Homo sapiens: one gene and its partners. The protein of the gene in region 2 interacts with the protein of the main gene of each other region in a biochemical or structural test. Each region holds a gene or a part of one and is shown on either strand. Other genes may lie near its edges. The genes, in order: ITSN1, DNM2, GRB2 and PDE6G.

Region 1 (7,622 bases), on a different chromosome or scaffold from region 2:
AAAATTATTATTCTGGGATTCTTTACTGGAAAACACACACGCCCTTAGTCTGGTTTACTGGAACACACCCAGAAACACACACACATGCTCAGTCTAGGTTACTGAAACACACGCACGAGTGTGCACACACGCGCTGACTTGCAGTCTCGTTTACTAGAACACATTGGCATAAGTGTGCTCACACACTCACGGTTTACCGGAGCACACAGACCCCCAGCCTCGCTTTGTAATGCCTGTGTGTTACTTTCCAGCCTATTTTCCTAAATGAGGTTCTAGTAAAATTACCCACCGACCCTTCTGGAGACGAGCCCATCTTCCACATCTCCCACATTGACCGCGTCTATACTCTCCGAGCAGAAAGCATAAATGAAAGGTGAGACCTGCCGCCTCCCCAGCATGGGCCCCAGGGCTCCACGGCTCTAGGACACACAAGGGGCGGGTGATTAATCAGGTGCCAATGTTTCCCAAGTGGCAATGCCATCACCCCTAGCTGGGAGTGGGGATGGGGCTATTACTTTTTTCTACAGCCTCTCAAAAATCTGTCACATGGCATGCCCTTTCCAAAATAACATGGATTCAAACTAATTTTGCTTGAGTTTTTTTTTTTTTTTTTTTTTTTAAGGCAGAGTCTCACTCTGTCACCCAGGCTGGAGTGCAGTAGTGCAGTCACAGCTCACTGCAGCCTTAACCTCCTGGGCTCAGGTAATCCTCCCACCCTAGCCTCCCAGGTATGTGGGACTACAGGCATGTGCTACCAAGCCTGGCTAATTCTTTATATTTTTTTGTAGAGATGGGTTCTTGCCATGTTGCCCAGGCTGGTCTTAAACTCCTGGGCTCAAGGGATCCACCCGCCTTGGCCTCCCAGAATGCCAGAATTCTGGGATTACAGGGGTGAGCCACTGCACCTGGCATTGTTGTTGTTGTTGTTGTTGTTTTATTAAGAAATGTTTCGCATTCTTTGAGGTAAACAGAGCATCTCAGGTTTCCCCTGGCTTCCCAGGTGGCAGAAACCAATAGGAAAGTAATTTCGGGGTTAATAGGACCACGCAAACCCAAACCTCTCCTCACCTTGGCTGACTTAAATGGGCATTCTGGAACCTAGGGCTGTGGGTATTTTGCTTCAATCTGTCTTCAAGACACTGCCCTGGAGCCAAATGAAATAGATCATTTTCTGAAGGGTGAACTTGACACAAGGCCAGCATCATTCCAAAGAGCATTTGCACCAAGCAAGAAAATTGGCTAAAGCTTTTGTGCATATGGTTCTCAGAAAAAATGAAGGAGAAAACCGCGGCCACAAATGCCTTCCCCCAAGGCGTTTTGGTCTTTCGTGTGAAGTGGTTCCCAATCTGGGAAGTGGTTTTTGTTCTTTCTTTGCGTGATTTCATAAGCGAGATCCTTCTGGCTTTGTTGGATTAGGCAAATATGTGCTGCTCTTCGGTAAGGAAGGAAGAGGAGTCGTGTCCCGATGTTGCCTCCAAGACAGCATCTATCACAGATTTTCTTCCCCGGGGACATCATCGCAGGTCTTGAGGACATCCATGGAAATGGCCCTCATGCCTTTCTTATCGATGGCAGGAATAAGTATTAGCGTCACGTGACATAAAATCAGATTTTCTTTCCCGAGCCTTTGTTGTTAAAATCAAATGAACAAAGAAACAGAGTCCTGGCAACAGTGTTTGAACAGACCTGAAGCCTTTTTCCTGAGTTTCTGTTTGGCAACTTTCTGTCTTTTTCTGTCCAAGGACTGCCTGGGTGCAGAAAATCAAAGCTGCTTCTGAACTCTACATAGAGACTGAGAAAAAGAAGCGCGAGAAAGCGTACCTGGGTAATGCATGGCCCCGCGGGGTGTCCTGCACAGCTGGGCAGGAGGGAGGGCCATTTGGCTGGGCTGAAAATCCTCAGAATAGAAGAATCCCCTGGACCTAGAGGAGGGGCATGGAATGAGATGGAAGTGAGCTTGGGGTGGGATGCAGATGGGGATGGAGGGCAAATTCCAGGAGCAAGGAAGCAAGTGTTTAAGGAGAGGGAAGAATTACTTTTGAGTCGGGAGAGGTACATGAAATGCATTGTGAGGCTCACAGAGATGGGAAAGGTGTGGCACGTTCAAATGAAGCATTTTGTGTTTTTCCTGCCGTCATAGTCCGTTCCCAAAGGGCAACAGGCATTGGAAGGTTGATGGTGAACGTGGTTGAAGGCATCGAGTTGAAACCCTGTCGGTCACATGGTAAGGCTGTGAGGCGCCCCCGGCTCCTGCTTTGGGGTTGGGAGTAGGGTCCGGGTTCCCCACACCCCCACCTGGCTCTAGATCAAATGTGCTATTTCCATACTCCCTGATCTCCTTCCAGAATTGGTTTAACTAGCACTTGTTAAAAACCTGGAGGTTTTGTGTTTTTTTTTCCATCCTTTCTACCATTCTGCTTCTCCGAGGGATCTGAGTGGCTGCATTCACAGTGGATGTGACACAAGATCAGGCCAAAGTAACGAGACAGGAAGGGCCTAGTTTCAAAGCCCACTCAATTAAGTATTTGTTTTTAGTTTAAGGATGAAGCTGACTTCTGGGAGTTTCCACCCGGATTCTCCACCGAATGACACTTATTAAGCATAGCAGTTATTAAGAGTGGGGAGCGGCCGGGCATGGTGGCTCACACCTGTAATCCCAGTGCTTTGGGAGGCCAAAGCAGGTGGATCACCTGAGGTCAGGAGTTTGAGACCAGCCTGGCCAACATGGTGAAAGCCCGTCTTTACTAAAAATATAAAAAATTAGCCAGGCATGGGGGCAGCCACCTGTAATACCAGCTATTCATTCAGGAGACTGAGGCAGGAGAATCACTTGAGCTCAGGAGGTGGAGGTTGCAATGAGCTGAGATCATACCACTGCACTGCAGCCTGGGCGACAGAGCAAGAATCCATCTAAAAAAAAAAAAAAAAAAGAGTGGAGATCAAAATGAGGTGTGAGTTCCACCTGGCGAAGGCTTTTGTTCCCTCCAGGAAAGAGCAACCCGTACTGTGAGGTGACCATGGGTTCCCAGTGCCACATCACCAAGACGATCCAGGACACTCTGAACCCCAAGTGGAATTCCAACTGCCAGTTCTTCATCCGAGACCTGGAGCAGGAAGTCCTCTGCATCACTGTGTTCGAGAGGGACCAGTTCTCACCAGATGGTGAGTGGAACGCGGCCCTGTGGTTATTCCTCCTTCCCTGGCACTCGTTTGCGTGGGTTAATGTTTTCTTACCTGGGGACTTGGTGCCAGGATTCCTTCGGTTTCCCTCCTGAGAGATGAGGCTGGCTGGCACAAGACGAGGCTCTGTCTCCCCTGGAGGAGTCTTCTGGAGGCGTCTCATTGCATGTGGACAGAGCATGCTTGGTCTAGAATTGTGCCAGCTGCCCTGGGCAAACACGTCCATCTTCTGCTTTCCAAAGCAGGTGACTGTGGAGAGGGGTGTGTTTAAGAGCCTCAGCATAGTTCTTCAGTCCTTGGCAAAAAGCTGTGCTGGCAATGGATGAAACTGGCCAATGGAACAAGGATGTTAGCCCACAACAGGAGCCGCAGAATGGGCCAGGTCCCTTTGGGTGGCATTTTTGTACCACTTATTAAGTAGGCAAAGGGATGCAGTCATGTTGAATGAATCATTTCTTCAGCCAGCCTTCTGTTTCTGCTTGGGCCTGGAAAAGAATAGTCTCAGCCCAATGATTCCAAGAAACTACCTGTCTCTCCCTCAACCCAATAAAAATCACCGGTGGGCATGGTGCTGCAGGCCTGGAATCCCAACACTTTGGGAGGCTGAGGCAGGAGGATCGCTTAAGCCCAGGAGTCTAAGACCAGCCTGGGCAACATAGTGGGACCTTGTCTCTACAAAAAAATACAAAACTTAGCCAGGCATGGTGGCATGCACCTGTAGTTCCAGCTACTCGGGAGGCTGAGGCAGGAGGATTGCTTGAGCCTGGGAGGTCGAGGCTGCAGTGAGCCATGATGGTACCACTATATTCCAGCCTGGGCAACAGAGCAAGATCCTGTCTCCAAAAAAAAAAAAATCACAGAGTAAGTTAAAAGATTATGGTCTCAACTTAATTATAACCGAAGAAGTGAGGGTCAAATGCTAGCATTATCTGTACAAGGTTTAAATGGCTCCATATGGCCTTCATCTTTTAGTACTTTTTATATGAATTATCTCATTGTGAGTTAGGTACTCGTTGTGGTAGCTGGTTAAATGTTTGAGTGTGACTGGAACAGTTTGGCTCCCAAGTCTGGGCTCTTAACTACTATGTGTACTGTCAACTTCTAATTCTTTTTTCTTTTTATTTTTTTTATTTATTTATCTTTTTTCTTGTTGTTCTCGCTCTGTCACTCAGGCTGGAGCACAGTGGTGCAATCACAGCTCACTGCAGCCTCCACCTCCCAGGCTCAAGCAATCCTCCTGCCTCAGCCTCCTAAGTAGCAGGGATGACAGGCATGAACCACCATGCTAGGCTAATTTTTAAAAATTTTTTGTAGAGACAGGGTCTCACTCTATTGCCCAGGCTGGTGTCAAACTCCTGGACTCAAGTGATCCTCCTGCCTCGGCCTCCCAAAGTGCTGGGATTACAGACGCGAGCCACTGTGCCCGGCCACCTTCTAATTCTGAGAGATAAAGGTTGGGGTTGGGTTTTTTTTTTTATTTAAGTAATGAAATACCATGACACATTGGCAACTCCGCTGGGGAGCGAGTTGGAAATCCTAGTGTTGGTTTACATCAGAGCCCAGAGAAGAAGGGAGAGCATAACAGTTCATCAGGGGGTCCCCAATATGCCAGACATGTGCCTCGAAGAGAGGGAATGGTCCCTCTTAGGAGGGTCTGTTTGTTCTCTTTTCAGATTTTTTGGGTCGGACGGAGATCCGTGTGGCGGACATCAAGAAAGACCAGGGCTCCAAAGGTCCAGTTACGAAGTGTCTTCTGCTGCACGAAGTCCCCACGGGAGAGATTGTGGTCCGCTTGGACCTGCAGTTGTTTGATGAGCCGTAGGCAGCGGGCTCAGGGTGTGCTCAGCAGGGTCCCAGCCCACGGCCACACATGCTGTCTGGAAATTGTATTCCTTTTCTAAGAAACCACCATTTGGTATTCAGTCACAGGGATATGGGATGGCAAAGACAGGCCCCTCAAAGCTCCTAGGAATCATTCTCGACAATCCTCCCTGCCCCGAAACAATTTCCTGTTTCATGAAACAAAGCTGTGTTTTCCTTTGTCCTCACTACAGGTCTCATTATGGCTTCTAGGGTCGCTGAAATCCCATAGCCCTCAACAGGGTGCAGCTGGGAGTCTAGCCCCTTCCCGGGCTTGAGGGATGGGTCTGGTTACTATAAAATAGATTTATAAATGCAATGTCTATATTTTTGGAGAACTCATGTAACCCTCCTGTTTCTTACATCCACCAGTCCCCAAGTAGACTTCTTGGCCTACAATGCCCAGTCCTTGGTGTGAGTTTAGAAACAATTATGACGGTCCTGTCATTGCTTCAGAATCCCATCTCTCCTGCAGGGAAATGCTGCCTAGAGCTGATCACTCGGTGAGACGGTCTGATCAGGCCCTGGCTTAGCTCTTTGAAGAGCTGGTCTATGGAAGTTTCCAGCATGTGCACCGTTATAGCCGTTCCTTCCCCCTCTAGGCCTTGTATTAATATATGTCAATGAAAACACACTGGTGTATTGTTGCGTGGATTCAGTTCTGATTCCCAGCATGCTTAGAATATGGTCACAGAAAGTCATTATCTAGAAAGTCACCCCTCTGCTGGATCAGATCACTACAGGTCACTGGAAAGGCAACTTTACAATGTTGGGTCACTGGGTCTCGGTTGGCAGCCATGTTGGAAAAATCTCTTTTGGCTCGGAGGCCTGTGATATTTCATAGCAGCAGTCGTTGCTGGTGACCTGTTCTGTGCTTGAATGTGCTGAATCCTGATTGTTGTAGGACATTTCAACAGCTCTTTTTGGTACGTTCCCCAAAAAGCCATGTCCTAGATCCCCAAGGCGTGAAAAGGAAAAATATCAAGCTGGAGGTTGGGAAAGAAAATGAAGGCAGTCCATTATGTGGTGGGTGAAAGACCCTAGGAGGATGCAAGCCCCGCACATCCCGGGGCAAAGACCTAAGACACTTTTCCACCCTCCACCACCCCAACCTCACATAATATGCTTGTTGCAAGAGTCAGGACTTTATGACTATGTGCCAAGCTGTTTGGTTTGAGTTCTTTAATTTTTTTTTCCCTTAAATGCCAGGAGATCATCTGGTTAGTTAGATAGTAACTTGATTTGCTAATGAAAAGTGGGGGCCGTGTTTTGTTTGCATGTTAATATTCTCATAATCCTAGTTTGTTGTGGTCATGAAATGTCCTTTGCATGTTCTGTTGGTACTGGAGTCTAGCTTTCCTGTACTAGATGGTGTTCTCTTTGATTGTAGGTCCTTAGACTTTAATTAGGGTTATCAAAGTGCTTTCTAAATGATAGCATCAGCGTTGTGGCAGAGTACCTCCTTTGCTGGGAACTGAATGTGTAGTGTTATCATTTCCCATGAGAGCCCGGTCATACTTCAAGCAATTTTTTTAAAAGTGTGTGTTGGAAAGGACAACAAAGTTTACATTTCATACTTTTAAGAAATACTTTATTATTTATTTATTGAAGATAGTGTAGAATTTTGTATCAAGAACAACAGACATAAGTATTTTTTGAAACAAGCAAATATACCCTGTAGTTAGAAACTTTCAACTGAACATGTTAGAGACCAAGTTTAACTTCAGGCATGCATTTGTTTACCATTTCCCAGCAGAAAACATGGTTAAAATACTTTAAGTTTATATTTTTTGATGTTGTTAAGAAACTTTTAAATTAAATCTATAAATAGACATGCAACTCATGCTTTCCTATTTCTATAACCAACACCGTTTGTTTAGTGTATTTATGAAAGATATGCTACCATGGTAGAAAGAAAAGTATTCAATGTGTAAATGGGGTAGTGTGGGTCACCATTCCGATCTCTTTTTGTTTTCTGTCCTGTCTTTTCTTCATTGACTTTATTTGCGTGTTAATGTTGGACATCATTGTTCATGTAGGTAGCGTATGGTATGCACAATGACAAACAATCGTTTTAGGTCCCAGGTCACCCACTCATAGTGTCCTATTATTGGAATTAATGTAGCATGAGAAAGCAATATGTGACTCTTTTTCCTCAAGTGACTCTGTTGAGCATCCTTGAGATGCTCCTGCCATGTAGCAAGTTCTGGATTAGTGTCCTTGTATTTACTGGTGTAATTTGTAATGTAACCAATTGTCCGTATGGAGGAGTCGGGCTGGCCCTCGGACCCAGCTGTGATTCATGAGTTGTGTCACAGGGATTGAGAAACATGGGTGATGCATGGAGTCTCAAACCATTGGGCCTCTCTGTTCCTTCACCTCTACCTTCTTGACCACCTGGGCTATATTTCATAGAAATTAAATGCTCCTTGCCAACAAGGAGTCTGTCTCCTAGCTCTTTGTTTTCTAAATATAGGAGTTCTCTAGGCCACTGCATCCCGGCATCCTGATCCCAGCCTTTTAGACACCCCTGCAAGCGTTCCTCTGCTCTGAGCCACACTGCTAGCTTCTCCTGCACACTC
Region 2 (6,947 bases):
CCAGGACAGACCGGCCCCCGAGGGGGCAGCCAGACAGGTGGGAGGGGCCTCCCACGAAGCTCAGAAGAAAGGTCGTGCGGGAGCCGATGGAGGTGGTCGCCTGGCACAAGAGAAAAATCAGAAAGCAAAGTTTAACTGAGCCCCAGTTGGGCCACGAGGCTTGGGCTTCCCCACGAGGTGAGAGAAGCAGGGCCTGAGGGTAGGAAGGGGGTGGAGCGCTGGGGTCCCCGCTTCACCAGGCAGCAGCCAGGCCTGTGCACGTGGGGGTGTGCAGGGGGTCAGAGAATATCTGCTCCCACTCCTCACATGCTAAGGAAAGTAAAAGCTCTCCCCTGTATCGAGTGGCTTCCTCTGAAAGGTGACACCCCCGAAAGCAGAGCCCTCAGGGAGATGGGAGGCACTTATGAGTGCAGGGACTTGGGCATCCTTATGGGAGGCCTGATGGAGGTGGCACCCATGTCCCCAGCCTGAACACTAACACAAGAGGCCCACACAGCAGCCACCAGCAGCGTCTTCCCTTTATTTTAGTTTATTAATAGAATACAGAGTGCAGGCACTTACAGTGGTCAAACTGAGCGAGGAGTGGGTGAGGTCTCCTCAGAGAGAGGCCGCCCTGGGCCCACCCATCAGGGAGGCATGGGCGGGAGCTGAGAGGCCCCCAAGACCCCCCGCCACCACCACCCACATAGCCCAAGCCCAGCCACCCTGGGGGACCCAGGAGGAGGAGGAGGAGAGGAATAGGGCAAGGCCGGCCCGGGCCAACGGCTCCGGGCCTAGCAAAGGCACCTCTGGCAGCCGAGGCTGGGCCAGGCTCAGGCTGTGTGGTTAATATGGCCGGGAAGGACTATGTACACCTCAGGCCTGCCAGCTGGGCACTACCGAGCCCACTGGGCCAGGCTTGCCGCTGGGGAGCTCCTGCTAATGGGAAGTTGATATACCCCTGCACCCCAGCAAGGCCTGGGGATGTAGGCGCCCTTGGTGCCCGCACTTATAGAAGGCCTGCCCTACATGGGCTTTCCCAGCCCAAGAAGACCTTGGTAGAGTCCCCCCCAGGCTGGACCCCTCATTCAGGATGGTGTCAAGGGTTCTGGTCCCCCCTCTGCCACCCTGAGACTCCATCCCCCAAAGTGCAACACCCCAGCGCCCCCTGCCTGGAGCTCCAGGGCCCCTTTGCGCAGTGCGGTGTCCAGCCAGGCACAGGGGCCGGCCCTGGACCGGGGCCAGCGTTAAGGAAGAGGCCAGGGCTGCCCACTGGGAGCCTGGTCCCAGCATAGGGGCGGCGGAGGGCCCCAGACCACTGAAGCTCCTGCGCCGCGGGTGCGTGAGGCCCCCCCGAGAGCACGCCCCCCTCGAGGCCTAGTCGAGCAGGGATGGCTCGGCTGGGCGGATAATGGTGGGCCGGCTGGGCGCAGCAGGGGGTCTTCTGCTGCAAAGAGAATAAAGACAGGTGGGGAGGGGGAGACGGCAGTGAGGCCGGGAGCAAGAGGCAGGCCTGGGTTGAGGACCCAGCCCCCACCCACACACCACCCCAGGGTGTTCCCAGGCTGACCTCCGCAAGCCACCAGGGTGTCGGGCAGGAGTGCCAAACCTAGGCATCAACTCGCCTGCTGTTTGACCCTCAGTGAGCCCCCTGCCCTCCCTGGGCCTCAGCTTCCCCACCGGAGAAGTGGGGAGAATAAAGCCTGGCCCACGGTAGGTTGAGGCAGGCAGGAGCAGGAAGGAGAAGAAGGTAAACAGTGGGAGGAGGTGCCCAGTGTGAGGGTTCCCCAGCTGCCTGGTGGCACACCCCAGTAGGCAGAGGGCAAGCTGGGAGCCCCGGAGTCACCAGGGCTCCGCTACTCTGTGACACTGAACAAGCCTCTTGGCCTCTCTGGGCCTGTTTCCTCGCAAGCCAAATAGGGATGAGGACGATTCCTCCACTCCAGCAGCTGGGCACGTAGTGAGAGCTCACTGGGAGGAAGTGAGACAGGAGGAGAGACCCCAGGGTGCAGGCAGTTGGGGTGGAGGGCAGGGGGTTGGCCTTACCTGGGCACTCCTGGGGGAATCCCTGGGGGGATCCGAACTGGCCGAGATGGGATCTGAGGCGGGGCTGGGAAGAGGTCACTGTTGGCAAACACGCTCTGGGGTCCAGGCCGGGATGGGATTGGGGGCGCCGAGAAGGAGGCTGCTGCCCCCACGGGAACAGGAATCAGGGGGGGCCCTGGAGTGGGGCCCCTCACTGCTGGGGGCCGGCCAGGGGGGTGTATGCTGGACACCGGTCGGCGCTGTGGAGTGGGGCTGTGAGGAAGGAGAGGGTGTGAGCTACAGATACAGATGGAGTAGGAGCCCCCGCCATGCCACTGTGGCTGCCAGAACCTGAGGTGGGGGCTGGCTATGGGGACAGCGCAGGCGCAGTGGGATCCTCCCACCCCAACCTGAGCGCCAGTCCCACCTTCCCTTGCCCTCGGCCCCCTCAGGCACTTCCCACTCACAGGGCCCCCTCAGGCCTTGGGCCTGGGATCCACCCTCACAGCCAAAGACACTTCCAGAGTCCTCCAGATCAAGCCCTAATATCTCTAGGGGCCGTGGAACCTGCAAGCCCTGTCCAGACATCCAGATTCCCTCCTGGGCCTCAGTCCCTGCCACCTGCAGGCCTGGGTGCGATATCCTCCCCTTAAGGAACTCCATGGCTCCCCCAGGGCTCTGCAAGGCAGCCCCCTCTGAGGTTCCCTGCCCGACGGCCTCAATGGACAACTCAGGGGCGGCAGCAGCTCTGGCCACGCCTTGCGTTTGCCCCTCCAGAGCCTCCCATCTGCCCTTCTCTGTGCTCCAGGAGGCTCATCTCTCTCCTGTGGCTGCTGCCCCTCCAGCCTCTTACCCCAGCTTCCATTTGGGCTGTGCCAATGGAAGGCACCAGCAGAGGGCAGGCGGGGTATTTATTCACAGGGTCCTGCCCTAGAGCTGTAGGGCTGGCTCGCCCCCATACCCCTTCTCTCCCTCCTCCGGCCTCAGCAGGGCAGCAGCTCCCACAGTGCCCAGCCCTGGGTGCCACCCTTGGGCTGTGTCCTGTTTCCTGCCAGGACCCTGCAGGACACACAGGGAGGGCAGGAACCTGCAGGCCGAATGCTTGAGGGTAGGGGAACCAGGCTTCCGGACCTGTGGCTGCTGGCGCTCTGGAGCCAGGTGTCATCGACAGGCGGGGGTACAGGCGTGGACACAGTGCTGGTGCTGATGTCACCGATGATGTTGAGCGCCTCCTTGAGGGCATGGTACATGCGCAGCATGTCGTCCCGCCGCTGTGCCTGGTCAGCCGACTCCTCCATGAGGCTGCTCTGGTCTGCCGAGGAGTATAGGTAGGCCAGCAGCTCGTGGTGGATGAAGGCCTTCGTCTGCGGGCAGGGGTTGGGGAGGGTCAGGCTTGTGTATCACCCCAACCCAGAACCCACAGTGACTGCTGGAAAAACATCTCTCACAGGGCGGGGCCACCCCCAGACTTTTTTGAAAAAGAGTCTTGCTCTGTCACCCAGGCTGGAGTACAGTGGCTCAATTTCAGCTCACTGCAACCTCCGCCTCCCGGGTTCAAGTAATTATCCTGCCTCAGCCTCCCAAGTAGCTAGGACGACAGGCACGTTGACACCATGCTTGGCTAAGTTTTGTAATTTTTTTAGAGATAGGGTTCCACCATGTGGCCCAGGCTGGTTATGAGATTCTTATTCAACTTATTTCTAGTATCTTGCCTCTTCCATTGATGTCTTTTCTCCTGTTTTAGCTTATTTATTTATTTCCTTAACCTTGGCAGAATAATCCTGTTATATCTTTTTTGTTTTTGCTTTTTTTTTTTTGAGACAGTCTCACTGTCGCCCAGGTTGGAGTGCAGTGGTGCAATCTCAGCTCACTGCAACCTCCGCCTCCCGGGTTTATGCCATTCTCCTGCCTCAGTCTCCCAAGTAGCTGGGACTACAGGCGCCTGCCACCACGCCCAGCTTATTTTTTGTATTTTTAGTAGAGACAGGGTTTCACCCTGTTAGCCAGGATGGTCTCGATCTCCTGACCTTATGATCCGCCTGCCTCAGCCTCCCAAAGTGCTGGGATTACAGGCGTGAGCCACCGCGCCCAGCCAATCCTGTTATATCTTTATTTTTTTGTGACAGAGTCTCACTCTGTCACCCAGGCTGCAGTGCAATCTTGGCTCACTGCAACCTGCGTCTCCTGGGTCCAAGCAATTCTTGTGCCTCAACCTCCCAAGTAGCTGGGACTACAGGCGTGCCCCCCAACCCCCGGCTAATTTTTGTATTTTTAGCAGAGATGGGGTTTCACCATATTGGCCAGGCTGGTCTTTAACTCCTGACCTCAGGTGATCCACCCGCCTTGGCCTCCCAAAGTGCTGGGATTACAGGCGTGAGTGAGCCACTGCGCCCGGCTAATCCTGTTACATCTTCCACCTGGCTTCTGTTCAAACACTACTAGTTTCTGTTCATGAATTTTATACATTGTCCTTTCTGGAACCTCCTACTGGATACAGAAGTTTTTCAGTTACTTTTTTTTTTCTTTTTTTTTGAGACAGAGTCTCCCTCTGTCACCAGGCTGGAGTACAGTGGCATGATCTCCGCTCATTGCAAACTCCACCTCCTAGGTTCAAGTGATTCTCCTGCCTCAGCCTCCAGAGTAGCTGGGACTACAGACGCGTGCCACCACGCCCAGCTAATTTTTGTATTTTTAGTAGAGGGGGGTTTCAGCATGTTGGCCAGGATGGTCTCAGTCTCTTGACCTCGTGATGTGCCCGCCTCAGCCTCCCAAAGTGCTGGGATTACAGGCATGAGCCACCACACCTGGCCGTCACAACTTTTTTTTTTTTTAGATAGGGTCTCACTCCTATCACTCAGGCTGGAATGCAGTGGAGCGATCTTTGCTCACCGCAGCCTCGATCTCCTGGGCTCAAGTGATCTTCCTGCCTCAGCTTCCCGAGTAGCTGGGCCGACAGATTTATTATTTTCTTAAATAATAAAATATTTTTATTTTATAAGAGTCTATTAAAAATGGATAATTATGTCCCATCTTTGGCTGCTATAAAACATCATGGAAAACAATAAGCATGTATAAGCTCACTTTGCACGTGGGCAATTGTCTCTCTTAGAGAAGTTCCTAAAAGTAAACTTGCAGGGTCAAAGGATATATGCATTTTAAATTTCATAGCAGAAGAACCGTATATGTCTCCGATCCTATCGGTATATGAGGAAACATACCAGGACACCATGAAACTGTGAACACTGATCACTACTGAGAATGGGAGCAACAGGGTGGGAGGGCATGGCACGTGGGAGGTGTGTGTGTGTTTTAAATAGGGATGGGGTCTCACTATGTTGTCCAGGCTGGTCTTGAACTCCTGGGATCGAGTGATCCTCCTGCCAAGCCTCCCAAAGTGCTGGGAGTACAGATGTGAGCCACCATGCCCAGCCACACCCTGTGTGGGAGTTTTACTTAGATCCGCAGGTTTCTGTGGTTGACATTCATATACAAAACCCAAGACACTTTTTTTTTGAAAGAGGTTCCTGCTCCATCACCCAGGCTGGAGAGCAGTGGCGTAATCATGGCTCACTGCAGCCTCAACCTCCTGGGCTCAAGTGATGCTCTTACCTCGGTCTTCTGAGTAGCTGGGACTACAGGCATTTGCCACCACGCCCAGCTAATTTTTAAATTTTTTGTAGAGACTGGGGTATGGCTATGTTGCCCAGGCTGGTCTTCAGCTCCTGGGCTCAAGTGATCCTCCCTCCTCAGCCTCCCAAAGTGCTGGGATTACAGGCATGAGCCACTGCTCCGGCCCCAAAGCTGGTTTATAAAGCTTCCTGAGTGGCTAGTGCCATGCCAAAGGCCTGATACACAAGTGCCCTGAGCCCTCTAGCAGCCTGAGCTGGAGATACTATCAGTACAGCTGCATTTCACTGAAGAGGAGCCCAGAGCCCTGAGAGTCTCCAGGGAACCCGGGGCCAGGCGGGTGACGCCCATGAGGAAGAGGCTGGGCCCCAGATCATTAGGACACAGCGGCTGCCCAACACAACCCAAGGGTATGGTTGCAACCAGGGTAAACGTGGGTTTGAATCCCACTTCCCACTTTCCTAAGGAACTTGGGGCAGGTTACTTGATCTCTCTGGCCTTGTTTTCTGTCTGTGAAATGGGGAAGATGGCCGTTCTCCCTCCTGCAGTTATTCTGATGCCAGCCTAAGTTAATTCAGAGAAGGCGCACACCTGCAGTGTTCACTCCAGTTAGTGGACTTGATGGGACTATGGACCCAGTGTGGCTCGGAAACCCTAGGGTTTCCCAAAGAGGATGGCCGTGCAGATTCTGGTGTTCAAAGGGTGGTGATTCATTCAAATTTGTTGTTGCTGTTGTTGGACACAAGGTCTTGCTCTGTCGCCCAGGCTGGAGTGCAGTGGCATGATCATAGCTCACTGCAGCCTCAACCTCCTGGGCTCAAGTGATCCTCCTGCCTCAGCCTCCCAAAGTGCTAAGACTACAAACAGGTATGGCCTAGGGTGCCTGGCCTCCTTCTCATTTTTTTTTTTTTTTTTTTTTGAGATGGAGTCTCGCTCTGTCAACCAGGCTGGAGTGCAGTGGCACGATCTTGGCTCACTGCCATCTCCATCTCCCAGGTTCAAGTAATTGTCCTGCCTCAGCTTCCCGGGTAGCTGGATTACAGGCACCCGCCACCATGCCCGGCTACTTTTTGTATTTTTCTCTCTCTCTCTCTCTCTTTTCTTGAGACGGAGTCTCACTCTGTCGCCCAGGCTGGAGTGCAGTGGTGCACTCTAGGCTTACCACAACCTCTGCCTCTTGGGTTCAAGCGATTCCCCTGCCTCAGCCTCCTGAGTAGCTGGGATTACAGGCGTGAGCTACCGTGCCCGGCTAATTTTTGTATATTTAGTAGAGATGGGGTTTCACCATGTTGGTCAGTCTAGTCTCGAACTCCTTA
Region 3 (7,622 bases), on a different chromosome or scaffold from region 2:
ACTATCCCATTAGAGAGAGCTGCGGGAATCCCTTGGAGGGCAGAAGCTCAGGAGTGCTGGGCACTAGGGAAAACTGGCAGGCTCCAGCTGGCTGCAGGGAGCTGCTGCTCACCTCCTGAAGGCTGTGTCCACATGGGAATCTACATCCAGTGCTTCTAGAACTCATTTTGAGAGGAGCCAGAAATTAGGATTTTAATGTGAAATGAAGAAACTGTTTAGGCTAAGCCTCCACCATTTTGTGTGTAGCCAGGCACCTGACCAACGGCTTCACAATTTGGATCAGTCAGAGACAGGATTCCAGGCAACTGCAGCAGGAAATACTTACTTGACAGAGAGGGAGAAGTCCCCAGGAGCGCTCTCACTCTCTCGGATAAGAAAGGCCCCATCGTGCCGCTGTTTGCTAAGCATTTCTTCTGCCTTGGCTCTGGGGATTTTGCCAAAAAACCACCTAAGGAAGGAAGGCAAGCTGGTCAACATCTGCTTCCCCACAAAGAAACGGGATATCCAGCCTTCAAAATGTGAGTAACACAACACTCCTTGCCAGAGGAAGGGGCCTCCCTCCTCATCCTCCAGCCTCACAGTGCCCAAGATCGACACTGGGTTGGGTCCCCAGAGATGGACCTTCAAAGGTCTTTAGCCTACTCCATTTCCCAGAAAGCGACTCACCAAGGCACTAACCGTGGGTCACTCTTTCTATAGAGGGAGACATTTGAAAATGGGCCCCCCAGGCCAAAGCCCACTGGACTCCCTACTGACTCATGACAAAGGCGCCTGGGGAAAAGCTCAGGCCTTTGGGCTTGGTGTACGGGATGAACTGCCAAGGAGAGACTGGCCCCTTCCTGCAGCCATGTGATAAGATCACAGCTTCACCACAGTGGGACTAAGGGAAAGTGGGGAGGAAACCTGGACGGCCAGGAGCTGGAGGCAGGGTTACTTTTGCTAACAGCCCAAAGGCAAAAGGTTCAGATAGTATGAGGGTGCCTCTACCAGTAACTAAGGTCAGCATTCCTCTCAAGGCCTGCCTCTGGGGCCACTGCTCAGAGTTCAGCTTTCAGAAGCCACCAGGAATATTGTAATTTACCATATGCTCAGCAGCTAGCTGCAAAATTCAGATTTTTGAGGCAAGTTGCAGACTCTTCTGCTCCCAATTGCTGATTCACCTTGGCCAGAAGAAAAAGTGGCTAAATTCATGAAAAACTGTGAAGCAACTGGCTGTGGCTTATCAAGAGGAAGAGGAGAGGAACACTTCTACAAGAGCTTCAAGTCAAGCTGCCTCACTATTTCAAATGAAAACTATAATTAGGAAGAAGAAACTGTGAAAACCATGTTCTCTTCTCAAAATTGTCTTTAGTTATCATTTTTAAAAGCAAAAGTTATAGCAAATAAAGACCTATAAACATGGAAACTGGCATTCATTTAATATGCTAATTATAATATCAAAAGTCCTTTTAATGGACCAAATAGTCCATTAAAGTTGTAAATCTAACTTACATATCTTTTCTTTTTTTTTTTTTTTGAGGAGTCTAGCTCTGTCACCCAGGCTGGAGTGCAGTGGCACGATCTCGCTCACTGCAAGCTCTGCCTCCCGGGTTCACGCCATTCTCCTGCCTCAGCCTCCCAAGTAGCTGAGCAGCTGGGACTATACATAGGCGCCCGCCACCATGCCCGGCTAATATTTTGTATTTTTAGTAAAGATGGGGTTTCACCGTGTTAGCCAGGATGGTCTCGATCTCCTGACCTTGTTGATCCGCCTGCCTTGGCCTCCCAAAGTGCTGGGATTACAGGCATGAGCCACTACGCCCGGCCCTTTTTTTTTTAGATAGAGTCTCACTCTGTCATCAAGGCTGGAGTGCAGTGGCACGATCTCGGCTCACTGCAACCTTCGCCTCCTGGGTTCAAGCAATTCTCCTGCCTCAGCTTCCCTAGTAGCTGGGATTACAGGCGGCCACCACCACGCCCAGCTAATTTTTGTATTTTTAATAGAGACGGGGTTTCACCATATTGGCCAGGCTGGTCTTGAACTCCCGACCTCGAGATCTGCCCGCCTCAGCCTCCCAAAGTGCTGGGATTAAAGTCGCGAGCCACCACGCCCGGCTAATTTACATATCTTACTTATAAGCAACCATATTGGAAGATGTACCTAAAATAATATACTATACTCAAATTCAAACAGAAAGATGTGATCTGCTAGGAAGGATACACTTAGAAGCTGCCCTTAGTAACTTTGTCCTTGTGTGTGTGTGTCAGCCTCTAGGGACTCTTAGTAACTCTGAATAGTCTGACATCTACCTGCTTGGAGTCTTTCTCATTTTGCATACTCTACTGCCAGGATGCTGAGGAGCTGGGACAATAGATCCTCCTGCTTCTACAAATAACTCAAGGCTAGGGCCTGCAGTGCCTGGAAATCAGGCCACACAAGAGAAATCACATATCACTAGAATAGAATGCTCTCTAAATATAAAAGGACAGGCTGGGCCCGGTACCTCATGCCTGTAATTGCAGCACTTTGGGAGGCTGAGGTGGGGTGAATCACTTGAGGTCAGGAGTTTGAGACCAGCCTGGCCAACGTGGTGAAACCCACTCTCTACCAAAAATACAAAAATTAGATGGGCACAGTGGTGGGCACCTGTAATCCCAGCTACTCGGGAGGCTGAGGCAGGAGAATCACTTGAACCTGGGAGGCAGAGGTTGTAGTGAGCCGAGACTGTGCCACCGCACTCCAGCCTGGGCGAAAGAGTGAGACTCTGTCTCAAAAAAATATATAAATAAATAAAATAAAAAAGGAGGCTGGGTGCGGTGGCTCAATGCCTGTAATCGCAGCACTTTGGGAGGCCGAGGTGGGCGGATCATCTGAGGTCAGGAGTTCGAGACCAGCCTGGCCAACATGGAGAAACTCCATCTCTACTAAAAATACAAAATTAGCAAGGCGCGGTGGCGCATGCCTGTAATCCCAGCTACTCGGGAGGCTGAGGCAGGAGAATCGCTTGAATCTCCGGGAGGCAGAGGTTGCGGTGAGCCGAGATCGTGCCATTGCACTCCAGCCTGGGCAACAAGAGTGAAACTCCATCTCAAAAAAATTAAATAGGCCGGGTGTGGTGGCTCACGCCTGTAATCCCAGCACTTTGGGAGGCCGAGGCGGGCGGGTCACAAAGTCAGGAGATCGAGACCAACCTGGCTAACACGGTGAAACCCTGTCTTTACTAAAAATACAAAAAATTAGCCAGGCGTGGTGGCAGGTGCCTGTAGTCCCAGTTACTCAGGAGGCTGAGGCAGGAGAATGGAGTGAACCTGGGAGGCGGAGCTTGCAGTGAGCCGAGATCGCGCCACTGCACTCTAGCCTGGGCGACAAAGCGAGACTCGCTTTCAAAAAATAAATAAATAAATAAATAAATAAATAAATAAGGACACTTAACGGTATTGAGACCTTCTCAATCGGGGGGCCCCAATCAACGGTATTTAAACCTTCTCATATCGGGGGGCCCTGGGTTTCTAATATAAGTGTATGCAGCATGCATCTGACTGGGTACAGCAGTGAAAATCCACACATGGCCTCGGCTGGCTCTCCCCACACTGCCCCACACTCCCCACCACTGCCACTTCCAATAGCAATGGTGAGGGTGAAGATTCTCAATCAGCAAGGCTCTCTTTCCTCCTAGGCCCCCAAGATCTCTCCACTAGGGAGGTTTTTTCCCATTTGTAGGTATAAAATAATGAATATAAACTGAAATAGCCTAGATGTACATGAAGCAAACATAAAAAGTAAGATGCTTCCCTCAAACTCCCCAGAGGCAGCACGTGTTGGCGGTTCTAACACTTAGGTTTCCAGACCTTTCTGTCTGGTGTCACATAGACATGGCTGCTGTGTTTTCTTGCCCCCAGCTTAAAATTAACGCAATTTTATTTTCAATTAAAAAAAATAAATTGTAGTGAAGTACAAATTATAATGTTTAAAAAGTACTCTAACTGGAATTAAAACCAAAAACCAAAAAAACCACAACTCTGTTATAAGCACCCAGATCAAGAAATAAAAAATCTGGCACCAGGTGCAGTTGCTCACGCCTGTTAATTCCAGCACTTTGGGAGGCTAAGGTGGGAGGATTGCTTAAGCCCAGTAGATCAAGACCAGCCCGGGCAACACAGTGAGACCCTGTCTCTACGAAAAATAAAAAATTAGCCAGGCATAGTGGTGCACAGCTGTAGACGCAGCAACTTAGGAGACTAAGGTGGGAGGATAACTTGAGCCCAACCTGGATGACAGAGCAAGACCCTGTGAATAGCTGTCACTACTAAAACACTGAAATACCACCATTCTACATTTCTATAGCATTTTATATCATTTATAAATTTGACTTTTTAAAATGATGATATGTACATGTGACTACATGCTTACGGGTGAATTTTTTTTATTTTTTATTTTTTGAGACAGAGTCTTGCTTTGTTGAATAGGCTGGAGTGCAGTGGCGTGATCTTGGCTTGCTGCAAGCTCTAACAGGCAAATGTTTTGAAAGTCTTTAAAAAGATGGGCTTTGGGCCGGGTGTGGTGGCTCACACCTGTAATCCCAGCACTTTGGGAGGCCGAGGCGGGCGGATCAGGAGGTCAGGAGATTGAGACCATCCTGACCAACACAGTGAAACCCCATCTCTACTAAAAATACAAAAATTAGCCAGGCATGGTGGCACATGCCTGTAATCCCAGCTACTCAGGAGGTGGAGGCAGGAGAATCCCTTGAACCAGGGAGTTGGGGGTTGCAGTGAGCCGAGATCGCGCCACAGCACTCTAGCCTGGCGACAGAGCGAGACTCCATCTCAAACAAACAAACAAACAAACAAACAAAAGATGGGCTTTGGCAGGGTGCGGTGGCTTACACCTGTAATCCCAGCACTTTAGGCCAAGAGCTCGAGATCAGCTTGGCCAACACAGTGAAACCCCATCTCTACTAAAAATACAACAATTCGACGGGAGTGGAGGCACGCGCCTGTAGTCCCAGCTACTCGGCAGGCTGAGGCACAAGAATCGCTTGAACCCAGCAGGCGGAGGTTGCAGTGAGCTGAGATAGCACCACTGCACTCCAGCCTGGGCAACAGAGCAGGATTCCGTCTCATAAAAACAACAAGAACAACAACAAACAAAAAACAAAAAAAAAAAAGGTGGGCTTATACAACAGAAATAGCAAGGGCGAGAGCTAAGGGGGTGAGGGGAGAAGGCTAATTTTCCAATATAATTCTTTACTACATCCCGTAGGCTCCCATCCATATGCATTTAGTGTGAAAAGCACATATTTGGATCCACCCCTCAAGCATATACAACTCATGCTGCAGCACTAATGCCAACAATCATTTTGTAGTCTAATTTGTTAACTTGAATGCTGCATTAGCTGACATGGTGCTACATTTTATGCTTCCCTCTTCCTCCATAACCCCTGCTCCCCACCCCCACAAACAAACAAACAAACAAACAAAAAAACAGGAGGTGGTAGGATGTGGAGGAGAAGGCCTGGTACTGACCCTGACCCTATACTCATGAACATCCAGCCACAGAGCAGCCCTATACAACAGCAACTACGTCTGCAAGGCCAAACACCTACATAGGCACAAGCATGGTCTTTGTTAGCAATATGGTAGACCTGAATAAATAAGGGTTTTTAAGTTGCTAGTTGCCTTTTCAGAGCTCAGAGTGGCTGAGCACTGCCCACCCTTTGGGCAGAGTCTGCAAATAACAACACAGCTGAGCCTGTGCTGGGTGCTTCTCCATCAATTCTTCTAAAGTTCTTCATAGTGGGGACAAAAGGTCAAGGCAAGGGAGTGACTGTCCCAGTCAGCCTGGCAGTAACTACAACTTTCCAAGGAAGGTAGCCTTTCCTATCTTTCCTCAACAGTCAGATTTAAATGCCTGTGTCACCCGAAACACTGAAGAAAAATAAGAATTTCGAGCCACAGGCATGTCATATAAGAAGTGTAGTATGATGTTCTGTTGAATTCCCTTTCAATCTGAAAATATGAAAACAAAAGGGAACTGAAGTCGATGTTGTGTTTGGATCTAATGAAGGAGCCAGCAAACAATAATGGCCTTCTGCCCAAATCTGCCCACAACCTAAGACTGTTTTTTAAATTTCTACTCGATTGTTAAAAGAAAATTTTTACAAGGAATATTTGACAGGATTGTATGCAGCCCACAAAGTCGAAATTACTTGCTATCTGGCTCTTCACAGAAAAAGTTTAGCCAACCCTTGACCTACAGTTTCTTTTGAGGACGACTGAAGGAAACAGAAGTACACAAATTATGTGGCTTATATGGGACCTGGGGAGGATGTGCTGTGATCCAACAGGCCCCTCCCACTCAAGATGCGACAAGCCACCTGAAAGTCTCCGCCACCAGCTGCTGTGAAAGCAAGTGGACAATGTCCAAGGGCATTCTAGTCTGAGCGTGGAAAGCCTCAGCTCCCCTGACACACTTGTAAGGCAAGCCAGCAACTGCTTCTGTGCTAGGAGCAGGGCCTGTGAATGAGGGGTGGGTGAGAACGGGAGGACAGTGGTCTGCAGGGGCTCTCAGGGGTCCACTATGTTGCGTTATTAATAAAATCGTGACAAGGGTAGCTTCTGAAAAAAAATTAAAAATATTCACTGCTCCCAGCAGCCTGGAGGACAGCATATTTTGTTCTCTTGTAAGTAGGAACACTAAGATGGAGGGATAAACATTTATTGAGAACTATTAGATGCCAAGCACCGTACTCTGGGGATACAAAGATATTAAGATACCGTCCCACAGCATTAGCACATATAAACACAAAATCATCTAAGTACCTTTTCTAAAACTCAAAAAAAATGCAGAATTATAAAACACATCTGGCTCTAAGACATATTTAACAGAAAAAGAATTACGGACCTGCACCAACTATCGTTTTATTTTTGAAGATCACTGACAGTTATTATCAATCTAAAACATATAATATTATTGACTATGATATATTATTATATACTATTAACATGCACAATCAATATCCTTTGTTAATTCCCTAGAAACGTGAATAAAAAGTATGACATCCATCCCAGTGATCTCAATTTTAAAAAGAGTGTTTGAAACAAGGAGGTGGGTCCAACCCTTCCAAGACTAATGGAGCTTAACTTACGGATGTGGTTTCATTTCTATGTAGTTCTTGGGAATGAAGCCGTCTTTTCCATTAAGCTCTGCCTTGTACCAGTTCTGATCACATTCTTCGTTCAAAACCTGAAAAGAAATAAGACAACAAAAAAACCCAATCATTTCCTTTTCCCTTTAAAAAGATAGTTACAAGACAATTATGCTATCTTTTAGGTCTGTGAACGGTTTCACTCGAAGTATTATCAGTTATACGGATATAAGACTCCTTTTAACTTCAAACAACCAGCATTATGTTAAACTCTGTTAAAATGAAACAGAAATTATCTCTGAAAATGAAAATTCAGGCTCCCAAACATCTGGAATGAAACCCTCAGTAAGGAAGGAGAAAGAAGAATGGCAAGTATTAGTTGTTTTTTTTTTTTAAGACGGAGTCTTGCTCTGTCGCCCAGGCTGAAGTGCAGTGGCGCGATCTTGGCTCACTGCAACCTCCACCTCCTGGGTTCAGGCGATTCTCCTGCCACAG
Region 4 (7,533 bases), on a different chromosome or scaffold from region 2:
CCGGGTCCCAGTCAGCCCTCCTGCTTCCAACCCTTGTGGGGGTCTCAACCCACCGGTGGAGGGGCTGAGACCCAGCCCCGCCAGCTCCAGCGTCATCCAGACAGCAGCCCCTGCAATCCGCCCTGGGGTAACCAGCCTGCCAGCTTTGCTTGGGTCCACCCGCACGCTCCCATTCCCCTTGCCTAGTGGATGCCCCCCTGCAACGCTGGCCACACACAGCTCCGGACTCCCCCCTGTCCTGGCCTCCCTCGCCCCGGCCCACAATCCACAGCAAACCTAGCCTCCCAACCTGTGGCAGGTCCTGAGCCTGGAGTCCTCACCACCTCCCTGTGGGTGACCACTGACAACTTCCTGCCCCTTCCCCTGCGTTCCCCACCCCAGGGAAGCGTGACTCCCGTCGGCATTTAACTGCTACTCTGGGTTTTTTTTTGTTTTGTTTTGTTTTTGAGACAGAGTTTTGCTCTTGTTGCCTGGGCTGGAGTGCAGTGGCACTATCTCGGCTCACTGCAACCTCCGCCTCCCGGGTTCAAGTGATTCTCCTGCCTCAGCCTCCCCAGCAGCTGGGATTACCGGCGTCTGCCACCATGCCCGGCTAATCTTTGCATTTTTGCATTTTTAGTAGAGACGGGGTTTCACCATGTTGACGAGGTTGTCTCGAACTCCTGACCTCATGATCCACCCGCCTCAGCCTCCCAAAGTGCTGGTATTACAGGCGTGAGCCACCGCACCCGGCCCAGCTGCTACTCTGATGAAAGTCCTCTGTGGCTCCTGCTGGGAATGGGCCTGCCAGGCCCAGCAGAGGAGCCTGCCTCTGAGCTGCCCTTCCTGATGGTTAGTGGGCTGCCTCCATCTCAAGTTCCCGCTCAGGGAGGTCTCCCCTGAACCCCCGCCCTGCAGCCACTGTGTCCTTAGGTTCTGATTTGCCGCTTCTCATCACGCGTCGAGTTAGCCCTGATTCCAGGCTGGTGGGCGTCTCCCGGGCTGTTGCCCTCTGATTCTTTTTTTTTTTTTTTTTTGAGACAGAGTCTTGCTCTGTCACCCAGGTTGGAGTGCAGTGGCGAGATCTTGGCTCACTGCAACTTCTGCCTCCCGGGTTCAAGTAATTCTCCTGCCTCAGCCTCCGGAGTAGCTCAGATTACAGGCATGCGCCACCACACCCAGCTAATTTTTCTTTGTGTTTTTAGTACAGATGGGGTTTCACCATCTTGGTCAGGCTGGTCTCAAACTCCTGACCTTGTGATCCACCCGCCTCGGCCTCCCAAAGTGCAGGGATTACAGGCGTGAGCCACCGCGCCCGGCCTAAAAAAGTTTTAATACCTGCCAAAGTAGCCCCCTAGGATCCTATTCCAGAGCTGTGGCTGGAATCTCACCTTTTTTTTTTTTTTAGACGGAGTCTCGCTCTGTTGCCCAGGCTAGAGTGCAGTGGCACGATCTCAGCTCACTGCAAGCTCCACCTCCTGGGTTCACGTCATTCTCCTGCCTCAGCCTCCCCAGTAGCTGGGACTACAGGCGCCCGACACCACGCCCGGCTAATTTATTTTTTTTTTTGTATTTTTTAGTAGAGATGGAGTTTCACCATGTTAGCCAGGATGGTCTCGATCTCCTGACCTCGTGATCCACCCACCTTGGCCTCCCAAAGTGCTGGGATTACAGGCGTGAGCCACTGCGCCCGGCCAACCCCTCTGATTCTTATTGATGGGTTTATTGCTTTCTGCCTCTTGTCTGTGCTTTGCAGTTGGGGTGCTGTCAGTTCCCTTCACCCACTCACGGAGGCATCCCTGAGCCCCTCAGCACCATGACGGGCACCCCGCAGTGCTGATGGAGAATGACCCACAAAATGGGGGGCAGGGTCCCCAGGCACGGCGCCCCTGGGAAAGGGGCCTGTCTCAGAGACTTGGTGCTGAGCTGTGAAGCCCTGCGTTCCCCAACCCCACTTCATAGAGGGACAAGCTGGGGCTTGGGGACGGAGGGTGCCGGGCATGTGTTCCCCCTGCTGGGGGAATCACCAGGCCCTCTCTGTGTCTGGAGTCAGCTCGGGGAGCAGGGTCACCCGCCTGGCGTGGCGTGGCGTGGCTGAAGGGCCTCGGCCGCTCTGGACGAGATCAGTGTCCCTGCACTGCTGCACAGGGTGGCCTCTCCTCCTCCTCTCCCTACAGCCTCTCCCCAGATGCCCTAAGCCCCAGTGACCTGGGCCAAGGGCAGTTCAGCTTCCCCTAAGCCTATTAACAGCAGAGGGGAATTCCTAATCTCCCATCGAGCTGCTGTCAGCTGCACATGCTGCCGGAAAGTTCTGGAAGGAGGCACATGACACAGACAGGAGGGGCTGCTTGCCCGCACTGGATGCCCCAGGGACCACCTCTTGGGGTCCCCTTTCCTGCCCCTGGTCTTTTTGGCTGGGATTCCTGACTCCAGCCCTGGGCTACTACCAGCTGTTTGCCGAGCTTCAGGCGTGAGAGTGATCAGAAAGCAAGGGCAGGTGGCCCATTTTGGGGACGCGGGCTCTGCAAGGGGTGCTGGGCACCTGGGATTGGGGTGGACCCTGCCATGGCACCTTCCCTCACTAAGGTTCAGCCTCTGTCCCCGGGACTGGGACCAGCACCAGCCTGTGCAAAACCAGCACTCAGGAGCCCGGTGGTCCCAGCTGCTCAGATCCCATGGCACCCAATCCTCATATCCTAGATAGCACAGGCCCCGTCCAGCTGCTTCTCCAGCCCTGGGACATGGGCTGTCCTGGGCAGCTCTGGGCCCTGATGGAGCTCCAACCATCAGATGCCATCCATGTGGAAACCGCTGCCTGCGCTGCCCTGGCCCGACCCAGCCTGTGACTGGCGTCCACTCAGGTCAGCTGAGCCCACGTGGCCTGAGGTTCCCAGACCATCACTGGCCTGGGGATGGTGGAAGCACTGGTTACCATGGGGGAGCAGAGGAGGAGGTTGGCTGGGAGTCCCCTCTGAATAACAGGGTGGCGGGTAGGCATCTGCAGACCCAGACCTCAGCCACGGTGGTAAAAGCCTGTCAGCTCCCTCTGCCCCTTGGGTGATGAGCAGACCCCCACTGACTCACTGGGGGAAGTGGCTGCCAGGAAAGACAGCGGGGTTGGCCACTACTCACCAAGTGCAGGGCGGGTCTCAGGGGGCTGTGCTGTGAGTGCTGGGCCTCCCTCCGCAGGGTGCCAGCCCCGGCCTTTATCTCGCTGCTTCATGAGCTGATTAGGCGTCTCAGTGCCACCCTAATGAGATTGTTGGGCCCCGAGGGGGGGCACAACCACCAAGGTTCAGGGGATGGAGAGGAGGGGCTCAGGTGCTGTCAAGGGCTCCAAGGAAGGACACCCAGCAGATGGGGCCGGGACAGGGAGAGAAGTGTGACCCTGAACAGCCAGGCTCCTGCAGCTGCCCATCTTCCAGATGGAAGCAACCACAGTGTCTGCTGTCTTGGGCCTCCCTACTGCCTTTCCTGACCCTGCCTGATCTCTGAAGGGCCCACCTTCATGGTCCCCAAAACCCTCTGCAGCCTGGCCCTCACCCGCTGCTGTGGCCTCACATCTCACCCCTCCCACCCCAGGGCCTTTGCACCTGCTGCTCCTGAAACCAAACAAGGACCCCCCCCCGCCCTTAGGGGCCTGTGGGTCTTCCCAAGCACAGAAGCAAGGACAATGTTGAGTTCCTTCAAGGGCAAGCCAGGCCCCCAGCCAGCCCAGAGAAGGAAATGAGCAGCCGATCCACAGGAAGGTCACAAGAAGGTCACAGGAGCTTAGAACAACAGATGGAAGCCAGAGTCCCGAGAGTCTCCACAGAAGCAAACCATGCCATCTTAGCAGGTGCTCCTCAGTTGTTTTCCAGAAACAGGGACTCCCACCAAAGGGGCGTGCTGGCACACAGACCTCACATGAGCGGGAGCTGAGGACTGGCCTCTGACCACCCTTCTCTTACCTAAATTTCTTCCTGAGGGGCCTGGAGGAGGCTATGCCCATCCTGAGGGGCCTGGAGGAGGCCATGCCCACAACCCAGAGCTAACATTCTTTCCTGCGGATCCCAAAGTTTTAGACAAAGATTCGCTTCTGCACCAAATCAGAAAACCTTTGAATCCACCTATGACCCGTGGTCCCTGGCTTCAAGATCTCCTTGCTATTTATGGCAAAACCAGTGTACAACCTCCATGTACTGATTTATGACTTGCCTGTGACCTCTGCCTCTGCACCTTTAAAAACCCATAACTCAGGCCTGGTGTGGTGGCTCATGCCTGTAATCCCAGCACTTTGGGAGGCTGAGGCAGGTGGATCACAAGGTCAGGAGATCGAGACCATCCTTGCTAACATGGTGAAACCCCGACTCTACTAAAAATACAAAAAAATTAGCCGGGCGTGGTGGCATGTACCTGTAATCCCAGCTACTTGGGAGGCTGAGGCAGGAGAATGGCGTGAACCCGGGAGGCGGAGCTTGCAGTGAGCCGAGATCGCGCCACCGCACTAGAGCCTGGGCGACAGAGCGAGATTCTGTTTCAAATGAATAAATAAATAAATAAATAAATAAATAAAAACCCATAACTCGGCCGGGAGCAGTGGCTCTCAAACAGCGCTTTGGGAGGCTGAGGCAGGAGGATCACTTGAGGCCAGGAGTTCAAGACCAGCCTGGACAACATAGTGAGACCCCCCCATCTCTACAAAAAATAGAAAAAATTAGCTAGGTGCAGTGGCTCACTTCTTATTTTATTATTTCATTTTTGAGACTGAGTCTCGCTCTGTTGCCCAGGCTGGAGTGCAGTGGCCTGATCTCGGCTCACTGCAACCTCTGCCTCCTGAGTTCAAGTGATTCTCCTGCCTCGGCCTCCTGAGTAGCTGGGATTACAGGCTCCCACCACCACGCCCAGCTAATTTTTAATATTTTTAGTAGAGACAGGGTTTCACCATGTTAGCCAGGATGGTCTCAATCTCCTGACCTCGTGATCTGCCCACTTTGGCCTCCCGAAGTGCTGGGATTACAGGTGTGAGCCACCGTGCCTGGCCACAGTGGCTCACTTCTATAGACCCAGCTACTTGGGAGGCTGAGGCAGGAGGATCCCTTGAGCCTAGGAGCTCGAGGCTGCAGTGAGCCATGGTCAAACCACTCCAGCCTGGGGGACAGAGAGAGACCCTATCTCTGAAGAAATATGAAAATTTTGAAAAATTAAAAATAAAACCTGGACGGGCATGGTGGCTCACGCCTGTAATCTCAGCACTTTGGGAGGCCGAGGCAGGTGGATTACTTGAGATCAGGAGTTCAAGACCAGCCTGGCCAACATGGTGAAACCCTGTCTCTACTAAAAATACAAAAATTAGCTGGGCGTGGTGGCATGCACCTGTAGTCCCAGTTACTCAGGAGGCTGAGGCAGGAGAATCGCTTGAACCCAGGAGGTGGAGGTTGCAGTGAGCTGAGATTGCACCACTGCACTCCAGCCTGGGCAACAGTGAGACTCTGTCTCAAAAAATAATAATAAAAATATAAATAGTAAAATAAAATAAAATGTATGAGTACTCCTTTTTTGGTATCATGTATCACAGACAATATACAAAGACAATCACATGAAAATACATAAAGCTCCAAATAGACCTAAACAAAGACCCTATAGCCTTGATTGTAAAACTCTAGCCATGAGACTGGCAAAAATCACTAGTCCAGAAAGGACGGCTGGATTCAAGTTATGCTGCAATAAATGGAACAAGTCAAAAACCTCTTGTCCCACATGGCTCAATCCCTCACTCAGCCCCAGAGGAAACAAGATTGCAATCCATATCTTTTTTTTTTTTTTTTTTTTTTGAGAGACAGGATCTGGCTCTGTCACCTAGGCTGGAATGCAGAAGTGAAATATCGGTGGCTGCAGGAATTCAAGGCTGCAGAGAGCTATTATTGTACCATTGCACTTTAACCTGGGTGACAGAGCGAGACCTCAACTCTGAAATAGTAAAATAGGCCAGGCATGGTGGCTCATCCCTGTACTTTTGGAGGACGAGGTGGCTGGACCACCTGAGGTCAGGAGTTTGAGACCGGCCTGGGCAATATAGTGAAACCCCATCTCTACTAAAACTAAAAAAATTAGTGGGGCGTGGTGGCGGGCGCCTGTAGTCCCAGCTGCCAGGGAGGCTGCGGCAGGAGAATCATTTAAACCCGGGAGGCGGAGGTTGCAGTGAGCTGAGATGGCGCCACTGCACTCCAACCTGGGCGACAGAGGAAGACTTCATCTCAAAAATAAATAAATAATAAAAAAGAAATTAAACGGTGATGTGGAACACTCTTTAAATTGTCGTTCACCACATTTTCATATCTTCACAATAATGCAAAACACAGTCACTTGCAGAACCGGTTCTGATGACTTAAATACCAGGTACAATTTTAGCCCTCTACGTAATTGCTTGGAAGTTACTTATGTTTACATGAAATGAAACTATTAGGCCGGGCACATTGGCTCACGTCTGTAATCCCAGAACTTTGGGAGGCCAAGGTGGGCGGATCACCTGAGGTCAGGAGTTGGAGACCAGCCTGACCAACATGGAGAAGACCTGTCTCTACAAAAATACAAAATTAGCCGGGCGTGGTGGTGCATGCTTGTAATCCCAGCTACTCAGGAGGCTGAGGCAGGAGAATCGATTGAACCCAGCAGGCAGAGGTTGCAGTGAGCCAAGATCGTGCCATTGCACTTCAGCCTGGGCAACAAGAGCGAAACTTCATCTCAAAAAAAGAAAAGAAAAAAAGAAAAGAAACAAAATGAGACTATTAGGCTGGGCACGGTGGCTCACACCTGTAATCCAGCACTTTGGGAGGCTGAGGCAGGTGGATCAGCTGAGGCCAGGTGTTCGACACCAGCTTGGCCAACATGGCGAAACCCTGTCTCTACTAAAAATACAAAAAATTAGCCAGGCGTGGTGGCAGGTGCCTTAATCCTAGCTACTGGGGAGGCTGAGGCAGGAGAATTTTTTGAACTCGGTAAGTGGAGGTTGCAGTGAGCAGAGATTGTGCCATTGCTCTCTAGCCTGGGCGACAGAGACTCTGTCTCAAAACAAAAAAATGAAGCTATTAATACTTTTCTACAGCAGTAACTACACACAGGAAGACCAAGACAAGCACAAGTTAAGGAATGGAGCTTTCCCAAAGCGGCTGTGTATAAAGACTATAAACTGTTTTTTGTTTGTTTTTTGAGAACAAACAAACTCACTGCAGCCTTGACCTCCTCAGGCTCAAGCAATCCTGCCACATCAGCCTCCTGAGTAGCTGGGACTACAGGTGCTCACCACCACACCCGGCTAATTTTTGTATTTTTTGTAAAGATAGAGTCTCACTATGTTGCCCAGGGTGGTCTCAAACTCCTAGACTCAAGTGATCCGCCCGTCTCAGACTCCCACAGTGCTAGGATTACAGGCGTGAGCTGCCGTGCCCGGCCGGACATACGTAGTTTTTTGCCATGGCTTTTCTTGTGTTCTCTATCTACAGGCTAAGCAGATTCTGTGTGCTGCCCTGGGGTCTTTAATTACTTCAAGTGCTCATGTTGAACTATGAATATGAT

What was found.
Region 1: the proteins of DNM2 (region 2) and ITSN1 form a complex in vitro, tested with the Homo sapiens proteins (2 studies listed by BioGRID and IntAct, with this or other methods).
Region 3: the proteins of DNM2 (region 2) and GRB2 form a complex in vitro, tested with the Homo sapiens proteins (3 studies listed by BioGRID and IntAct, with this or other methods).
Region 4: the proteins of DNM2 (region 2) and PDE6G form a complex in vitro, tested with the Homo sapiens proteins (one study listed by BioGRID).

The regions. Positions count from the first base shown.
Region 1 is NC_000021.9:33,883,299-33,890,920, forward strand, and holds part of ITSN1 (intersectin-1), read left to right. Parts: intron 1-251; coding exon 252-373; intron 374-1,742; coding exon 1,743-1,825; intron 1,826-2,140; coding exon 2,141-2,224; intron 2,225-2,988; coding exon 2,989-3,162; intron 3,163-4,853; coding exon 4,854-5,002; 3' UTR 5,003-7,622. UniProt on the Homo sapiens protein: Adapter protein that provides a link between the endocytic membrane traffic and the actin assembly machinery. Acts as a guanine nucleotide exchange factor (GEF) for CDC42, and thereby stimulates actin nucleation mediated by WASL and the ARP2/3 complex.
Region 2 is NC_000019.10:10,825,457-10,832,403, reverse strand, and holds the end of DNM2 (dynamin-2), read right to left. Parts: intron 3,432-6,947; exon of another isoform or gene 3,369-3,431; coding exon 3,136-3,368; intron 2,278-3,135; coding exon 2,026-2,277; intron 1,427-2,025; coding exon 1,357-1,426; 3' UTR 501-1,356; downstream 1-500. UniProt on the Homo sapiens protein: Catalyzes the hydrolysis of GTP and utilizes this energy to mediate vesicle scission at plasma membrane during endocytosis and filament remodeling at many actin structures during organization of the actin cytoskeleton.
Region 3 is NC_000017.11:75,325,573-75,333,194, forward strand, and holds part of GRB2 (growth factor receptor-bound protein 2), read right to left. Parts: intron 7,226-7,622; coding exon 7,128-7,225; intron 449-7,127; coding exon 326-448; intron 1-325. UniProt on the Homo sapiens protein: Non-enzymatic adapter protein that plays a pivotal role in precisely regulated signaling cascades from cell surface receptors to cellular responses, including signaling transduction and gene expression.
Region 4 is NC_000017.11:81,653,382-81,660,914, forward strand, and holds the start of PDE6G (retinal rod rhodopsin-sensitive cGMP 3',5'-cyclic phosphodiesterase subunit gamma), read right to left. Parts: upstream 3,162-7,533; 5' UTR 3,112-3,161; intron 346-3,111; exon of another isoform or gene 277-345; intron 1-276.